2 linked regions of the Homo sapiens genome follow. The protein of the gene in region 1 interacts with the protein of each later gene in a pairwise test. Each region holds a gene or a part of one and is shown on either strand. Other genes may lie near its edges.

Evidence for each region. Proteins that work in one complex are often made in the same cells at the same time.
Region 2: the proteins of DLC1 (region 1) and RASA1 interact in binary tests that used the Homo sapiens proteins (3 or more experiments, as listed by UniProt).

Annotation. Positions count from the first base shown.
Region 1 is NC_000008.11:13,102,219-13,105,875, forward strand, and holds part of DLC1 (rho GTPase-activating protein 7), read right to left. Parts: intron 636-3,657; coding exon 572-635; intron 1-571. UniProt on the Homo sapiens protein: Functions as a GTPase-activating protein for the small GTPases RHOA, RHOB, RHOC and CDC42, terminating their downstream signaling.
Region 2 is NC_000005.10:87,379,297-87,382,953, reverse strand, and holds part of RASA1 (ras GTPase-activating protein 1), read right to left. Parts: intron 3,220-3,657; coding exon 3,104-3,219; intron 2,446-3,103; coding exon 2,359-2,445; intron 1-2,358. UniProt on the Homo sapiens protein: Inhibitory regulator of the Ras-cyclic AMP pathway. Stimulates the GTPase of normal but not oncogenic Ras p21; this stimulation may be further increased in the presence of NCK1.

The DNA of each region.
Region 1 (3,657 bases):
AAAGTCTTCACAACTCACACGCAGAAGAAAATACCATCCAGCTCGGTTGTGTACCACCATTTGACTAAACTGTGTGGGATCTCCTGCCTTCTCCTCTTCCTCTTCCAATTCCTTTCCTCCCTCCAAATCTCTTATTATTCTTCAATATTGCACAAATCGGCCTTCGCTTTCATCTCTACAGCTTTGAAGCACAGTTATTGTTATATTTGGGAAGACAGAAGAGTTGGAAATAAACCTCAGTTTATTTCCTCTATGAGCAATGCAAAAATCCACTGGGATTCCTTAAGCATGATCCCTTTATTATGTAATAGGCATTGAGTTAGTAATTAGGCAAAATAATAGCTGATGTGATCAGGTCAAAAACAATAGATAAAATAATGTAATGGACTAGTTGCAACTATTGGCTTCAACTACATAAGGCTATCAAGTCTAGGCGATATCATTCAAGATGTAGATGCTTACGGAACAACAAACTAAGAGTTGGAGAAACAAAACCTATTACAAAACACATCATTCACTTTTTTGTTTGCCCCTTTTCCCCCTCATTCTATTATGCAATTTGTATACTCACTCGTTTCCGATGAGGACTAATTTCTAGCTTCATCACCGCACATTTGTTTAAAGTATTTAGACGCCTATAGAGCAAAGAAATAACGTTAGCAAAGATAGGCAACCACTCTCTAATGAGTGGATAAACACCTGTTTTTAAACAATTCATATATTTAAGGAGTTTCTTGAAACTCAGTAATACCTAATACCTAGAGGAGTATTAGAAACTTATTTAAAAAGTGAGTCATTTAAAAATACCTTGGCCGGGCGTGGTGGCTCACGCCTGTAATCCCAGCACTTTGGGAGGCCTAGGCGGGTGGATCACGAGGTCAGGAGAGCGAGACCATCCTGGCTAACACGGTGAAACCCCGTCTCTACTAAAAATACAAAAAAACAAGCCGGGCCTGGTGGTGGGCGCCTGTAGTCCCAGCTACTCAGGAGGCTGAGGCAGGAGAATGGCGTGAACCCGGGAGGCGGAGATTGCAGTGAGCCAAGATAGCGCCACTGCACTCCAGCCTGGGCGACAGAGTGAGACTCCTTCTCAAAATAAATAAATAAATAAATAAATAAATAAATAAATAAATAAATAAATACCTTTATGTTTTGTAAGTTTTTCACTTTAATTTTTATATTTTAGTGTGAAATGGCACACAGCTATGATACTGTCAAGTCTCTCTGATTCTTCAACTCTCAATGAGTTGTTCTTACTAAGAAAAATCATTCTTCCAATAACTCTTAGGTTGAGCCATTATGGACTGCCGCACATGGAGCCAAGAAAGAAAAGTTTGTGACTCGGCACGGTGGCTCATGCCTGTAATCCCAGCACTTTGGGAGGCCGAGGCAGGCAGATCACCTGAAGTCAGGAGTTTGAGACCAGCCTGTCCAACATGGCGAAACCCCAACTCTACTAAAAATGCAAAAATTAGCTGGGCATGGTCGTGGGTGCCTGTAATGCCAGCTACTCGGGAGGCTGTGGCAGGAAGAATCGCTTGAACCTGGGAGGTGAAGGTTGTAGTGAGCTGAGATTGTGCCACTGCACTCCAGCCTGGGCAAAAGAGCCAGACTCCATCTCAAAAAAAAAAAAAAAAAAAAGAAAGAAAGAAAAGAAAAGTTTGTGATGTCTCCTTTCATAGAAATAGAAACAGCAAAACAGCAACAAAGAACCAAGTAGAGTTTTTGGCAAAATAAACAGTGTCTTGTATTTGAAATCAAAACTCAAATTTAAAAAATTAGTTTTAGTTATCTCCGATGAATCATAATCTTGGACAGCCTGTCTAAAATTTTAGAGTCCTTGCACAGAATGGAAATTGAAGCCCTCTTTAATATCCAATATTTAGAACAGCTTCCTGTTATAGGACAATATAATGTGTGCTATAGTCACGGCAAATGATCATTTAAAGAATTTGCGTACTGTAACTTCAAGGATCCAAATCTTACCGGGTTCAAAATTAAGCACTCAGGTAAGACTCTTTTTGCAACAGCCATCCTATTGTCATTTTGATACCAATACTTTCACCTCTGCCAAACAGCAATATCAATTTAAAATTAGGGAAATTTAGTTTCGTTGAAAATAAAATACTTACAAAAAAAAAAAAAACCCAAAACCTCATGGAGAAATAATGCAACAGTTGAAAAAAGAAACACTTTAAATATGCTGAACTAAACGGTATGTACAACTATGAATGACAGCCCTTCAAGGCCCCAATTTTCCTGCCATCTCCCAGATGATCATCACTTAGTCTTCCTCAAATGAACCTGTAATGTGTCTGTTTGCCATCTGCTATCACCAGTTTTCTAGTTTTTCCTACGAATTGCAATTCTACATTTTCATAAGATCAGATCATTTAATTCACACAAATTCCTGGGAACCGTGAGACCTCCTCAGGGCTTTATCTTCCTGATCCTGTTCTTGCTGTTTGCCTAACAATGTTGATGCAACAGAATAGAAAGCATTTTTGCCTGCCTGATAAGCCCGATTTTGCCTTCATACCTTAGGTGGTAGCCTGTTTATAGAATAAATAAAGATAGCCCAGAGCGCCTAGGTTCAGAAAAGTTCTCTCTGTTGATGGGGAAGAAAAGAAAACAAATAACTAAGAAAAAGTCTGCACACTTTAAAATGAGTGGATATAAGGTCCCTCTATTGGGGGTATCAATTACTTAAATGACTTACACCCACAGTGTTTTAGTTCTCAAATGCTTTCAAGATTTAAAGAATCCGGAATGGTTACAGTTAGTCTTAGGTCTGGGTTCCATTAATCAAACCTGTAATCAAATAGTCACTTGACTTCATTTGGGCTTTAATGGTTGAATGGTGTTTATAACCAAATTTACTAGCCAGAGGCCTATGGGGCTGGAGAGGGGTTTAGCCTCACAAACTCCAGATTTTAGTCAAACTAAAAAGACCCAGGAGGCCAGTTCTATAAAGGTCAACATTACCTTTTTATGTTGGTAGCACCCAGCTAATGGCATTACAGACCTAAAGCCCAGAGTTATACCCTAGGGTTTCTGTGGTTTTCATTTGTCCTGGAGGACCCCCAAAGAATGTACTCTGCTGGGACCTTATTTCCTTACAGAGACAGTACTGATATCAAATCATAGTTCCAGCTACACAAACGAGGCCTACTGCGGGCCAGGCACTATGCTAGGCACTTCCTATATATGACTTCATCTTCCCAACGACCCTATGGTACAGATATTATGATTAACCTAGATTTTACAGATGAGGAAATGGGGCTCAGGGAGGTCACAGATCTTGTCTAAGTCCACACGATTAAAACATGGTGGCTCTCAAACCCAGTAACTTCTAGGTTCCTTTCTTTTTCTTCTTTTTTTTTTTTTTTGGAGACAGTCTTGCTCTATTGCCCAGGCTGGAGTGCAGTGGCTCACTGCAACCTCCGCCTCCCCGTTTCAAGCAATTCTCATGCCTCAGCCTCCTGAGCAGCTGGGACTACAGGTGCCCGCCACCAGGCCCAGCTAATTTTTTGTATTTTTAGTAGAAGTGGGGGTTTGCCATGTTGCCCGGCTGGTCTCGACCTCCTGAGCTCAGGCAATCCGCTCATCTCGGCCTCCCAAAGTGCTAGGATCACAGGCATGAGCCACTGCACCCGG
Region 2 (3,657 bases), on another chromosome or scaffold:
ACCTGGCAATTTTTTTTTTTTTTTAATTATTTTTGTAGAAAGCAGAGTCTCGCTACGGTGCCCAGGACAATTTCAAATTCCTGGCCTCAAGCAATCCTCCTGTCTTGGTCTAAACATGTTGAGATTACAGGCTTGAGCCACCATGCCCAGCCTGAAAAACTTTTAAGACAAGACATTAGGAATTCTAAAGTTTTAAAAAGTTGTCAAATTATAAAACAATAGCAAAAGCAAAAATTATACTAACAGCTGTCATATATGATTTTATCTGCTAATTTTACTTTGGGACAATGTCAGTGTTAAAAGCTTGCATAGATACTCCTATTCTGCCTCCTTTAGTCACTGGTAGGGAGGATATGTTGTCATGTAGATAATTTCTAATTTCCTTTTAAGAAGAATCCACACTAATAATTAACCTCTTACTTGCCCCATGTAAAGACAAGCATTATTCCTAAAATAATGAATTATGCAATTCCTTCTACAGATTGATAGACATAATCCATGTAAAGACAAGCATTATTCCCAAAATAATGAGTTACGCAATTCCTTCTATAGATTAATAGATACAATCTCTGTTCTCTGTTAGAGTGGATTACCCAATTTCTTAGCATTTACCTTTGAACATGTACCTGTTTGCTAATTTTTGGACTCTTAGAAAGTAAAGATGTTACTTCTCAAACAGCATTTATAGAAATTCTAATATATTGGCTGGGCATGGTGGCTCATGCCTGTAATCCAACACTTTGGGAGGCCGAGGTGGGTGTACCACCTGAGGCCAGGAGTTCAAGACCAGCCTGGCCAACATGGTCTAACCCCATCTCTACTAAAAATACAAAAATAGCCAGGTATGGTGGTGCATGCCTGTAATCCAGCTACTTGGGTGGATGAAGCACAAGAATCTCACTTGAACCTGGGAGGCGGGGGTTGCAGTAAGCCGAAATCACACCACTGCACTCCAGCATGGGCAACAGAGCAAGACCCTGTCTCAAAAAAATAACAATTAAGTCTTTAATTTTGGACTTCCCAAATTTAAAGAATCTTGTAAACTTTACTTGAAAATATTGTGATAATTATACATAGTAGGTCTATGAGCCTGAAACCTAACCTTGGCAAAAATGCCCTAAAACACCCTCTTGCACGAAACAGTTTACAATTTCCTGCTGTGTTTGCTTAACAGTTATACTTGTTTGAAACTTACAAATTTATAGAACAGTTTTAATTTACATCTCACACGTAACTGTGCTGGAATATTATGCTTGTAATTCTTTTCTATTCCTCCCAATCACCACTAATGCCAAGAAAAACAGAATCTGTAGTTCTTAAATATTATGTCATATCATAACCAAGAGAAATATTACCTGCCCCCCAAAAAAAGAAATAGAAGCCCCTTGACAAAATTTAGGTTGGAGGCAGGATTAACACATTTTCAAAACAAACTGTGTAATAATGGTGTTAATGGTTGCCTAATTATTTTACATATAGCATGACATGACAGTGTATATTCTAAATAACAAATTATATTATTAGAAAACTGCTGTATTCCATGACGCTTTCGCATTAAACTTCCATTTGCCTGGAATTAGTTGGGGTATTAGTTGGAGTATGCTTAACAAAAGCAAAAGCCTACAATAAGACTCAAGGATATCAGATTGGGTCTTAGAAAGTTACCTTTAGTTCTGCCTTAGCCACCAGCTTTCTATAAAACCTTAGTTCAACTTAACCTCTCCAGACAGATCTGCTTCTTCATTGGAAAAATAAGTTAGAATAATGATAATGAAGTAACCTTACGTAAGCTCCCAAATTCCATGATTTGCCAAAGCAGTTCTTCCTATAGAATAATGATAATGAAGTCCCTTTATATAAGCTCCCAAATTCCATGATTTGCCAAAGCAGTTCTTCCTAATTATGGTACAATGAGCAGACTGAAACACAGCTTCAGAACTACATGTTCTGGTTCTGATTAGCTCAGAGTCACAGATTGTAACAAACCAATTAATATCTAAATCGGTCAATTACTGCCCTTCTCTCTCACTGCCAATCAATGTGTGTGTATGTATGAAGAATACTATATGAAGTTAGCTACAGATTTTGTTATATAACTTTTAGCCTCATCTTGTAAGGGTTTAAAAATCCCCAATACTTGACTATAAATGAATGTTCATGTTTTTAGAAAATGCAAACGGCAGCTAAATCTCACAGTAACTTTCAGTTTAGGAGCCATCTGGACTTAGAAAATATGCAACAGGGCTTTGACATAAAAGCCAAAGAAAAAAGCATTGAATTGTATATTGTTATTCCTCAATTTTTCACAATTATCCACCTATTAGTATGTGATTTAACAAATCAATTGATGAGCCTTACCTAACAACTCTTGTTCTCATGGTGGTATTTGTAGGCCACTTATGCTGAACAGATTTCTGTAAACACCCATAAATATATCTCAATGTCCTGCCAAAATAACACAATCATCTCAACACAGAAAGCAAGTGAAAACACTGATCTCCTAGCAGCCAAAAGCTTAATTTACCCAAATATACCACAGTTCAATAAAACTGGCCTTTTACCCAAAAAAGTATTTTGCCACAGGTAATGAGGCATTTAGCAAGGGGTAAGGAAAACTTTATCCACTAAGTTTATCATCAATTTATTCAGTCAACTTCCTGACATTTACTTTCAGATATAGAGAACCAACCAGCTGCAAATTCTGGGGAGCAAGATTTAGACTTAAGTTAACTTCTACCTGAACAAGTGAGTTCACTAATACTGGAGGCCGACAAGCATATTAACAGAGTGATTAGTCTATCAAGTATAGACTAAATGGATAGACAAGATATCTTTTACAATCTCAAATCTGAAACTATAAACCTCTATTCACTCCCCAAGCTACTACAGTACAAACCAGACATATTGGCTTGTACGAAAATAATGGGTGGTTTTATTAAGACAGCTATTTTCTTTAAATACAATTCATCTCATAAAGATTAACCATGACTTTTTCAGAGTATAATAATATTAGGACAACAGAAAAGCTTTCACGTTTTAGAAATAGAAATTTCTGAAGACATAGATACACAATTTCTTGTCAAATGAAAATTTCACCACTTACGGTGGAAGTATTTCTGAAGCCATGAATATTTTCTCCACAAGCTCTGAAAGTATGTTCAATAGGTGTGTTAAATTAGTGTTCACATCTTCATTTTTTTCTAACTTTGATGGACTTAACTAAAAGAAGGAATAAATCAATATAAATGCATGTTGGCAATGACAAATGCAAATGAATAGAGGAAAACAAGTAGTTATAGTTTTCGAGGTTGTCTATTTTTCGGTATCTCTGTGTGTATTGATCTTTTTTCTTTGTATAATGGGAGTTTTTAAGTAGTTTTCTCTATGGAACTCCTCCTGGTAGGTCTGTTACCATTTATTCCCAATTAGCCAACTGAAAAGCAAACAGTGCTTAGTCAATTCTATTTATTTGAGGGGAAAAAAAGCTGATTAAAAGCTTTTCTGAATGAGGCTTATTTAATGGCTAATAAAAATATCAAATGCCTTAGGCAGAATCACAAACCTTTCTCAGAACTTTTCCTGTAACCCTTCTGATCTAGTGTCAGCAGAGTACATTTATCTATGGAAGTCGGAATTCCGTAGCCTATCTCTAAAGTC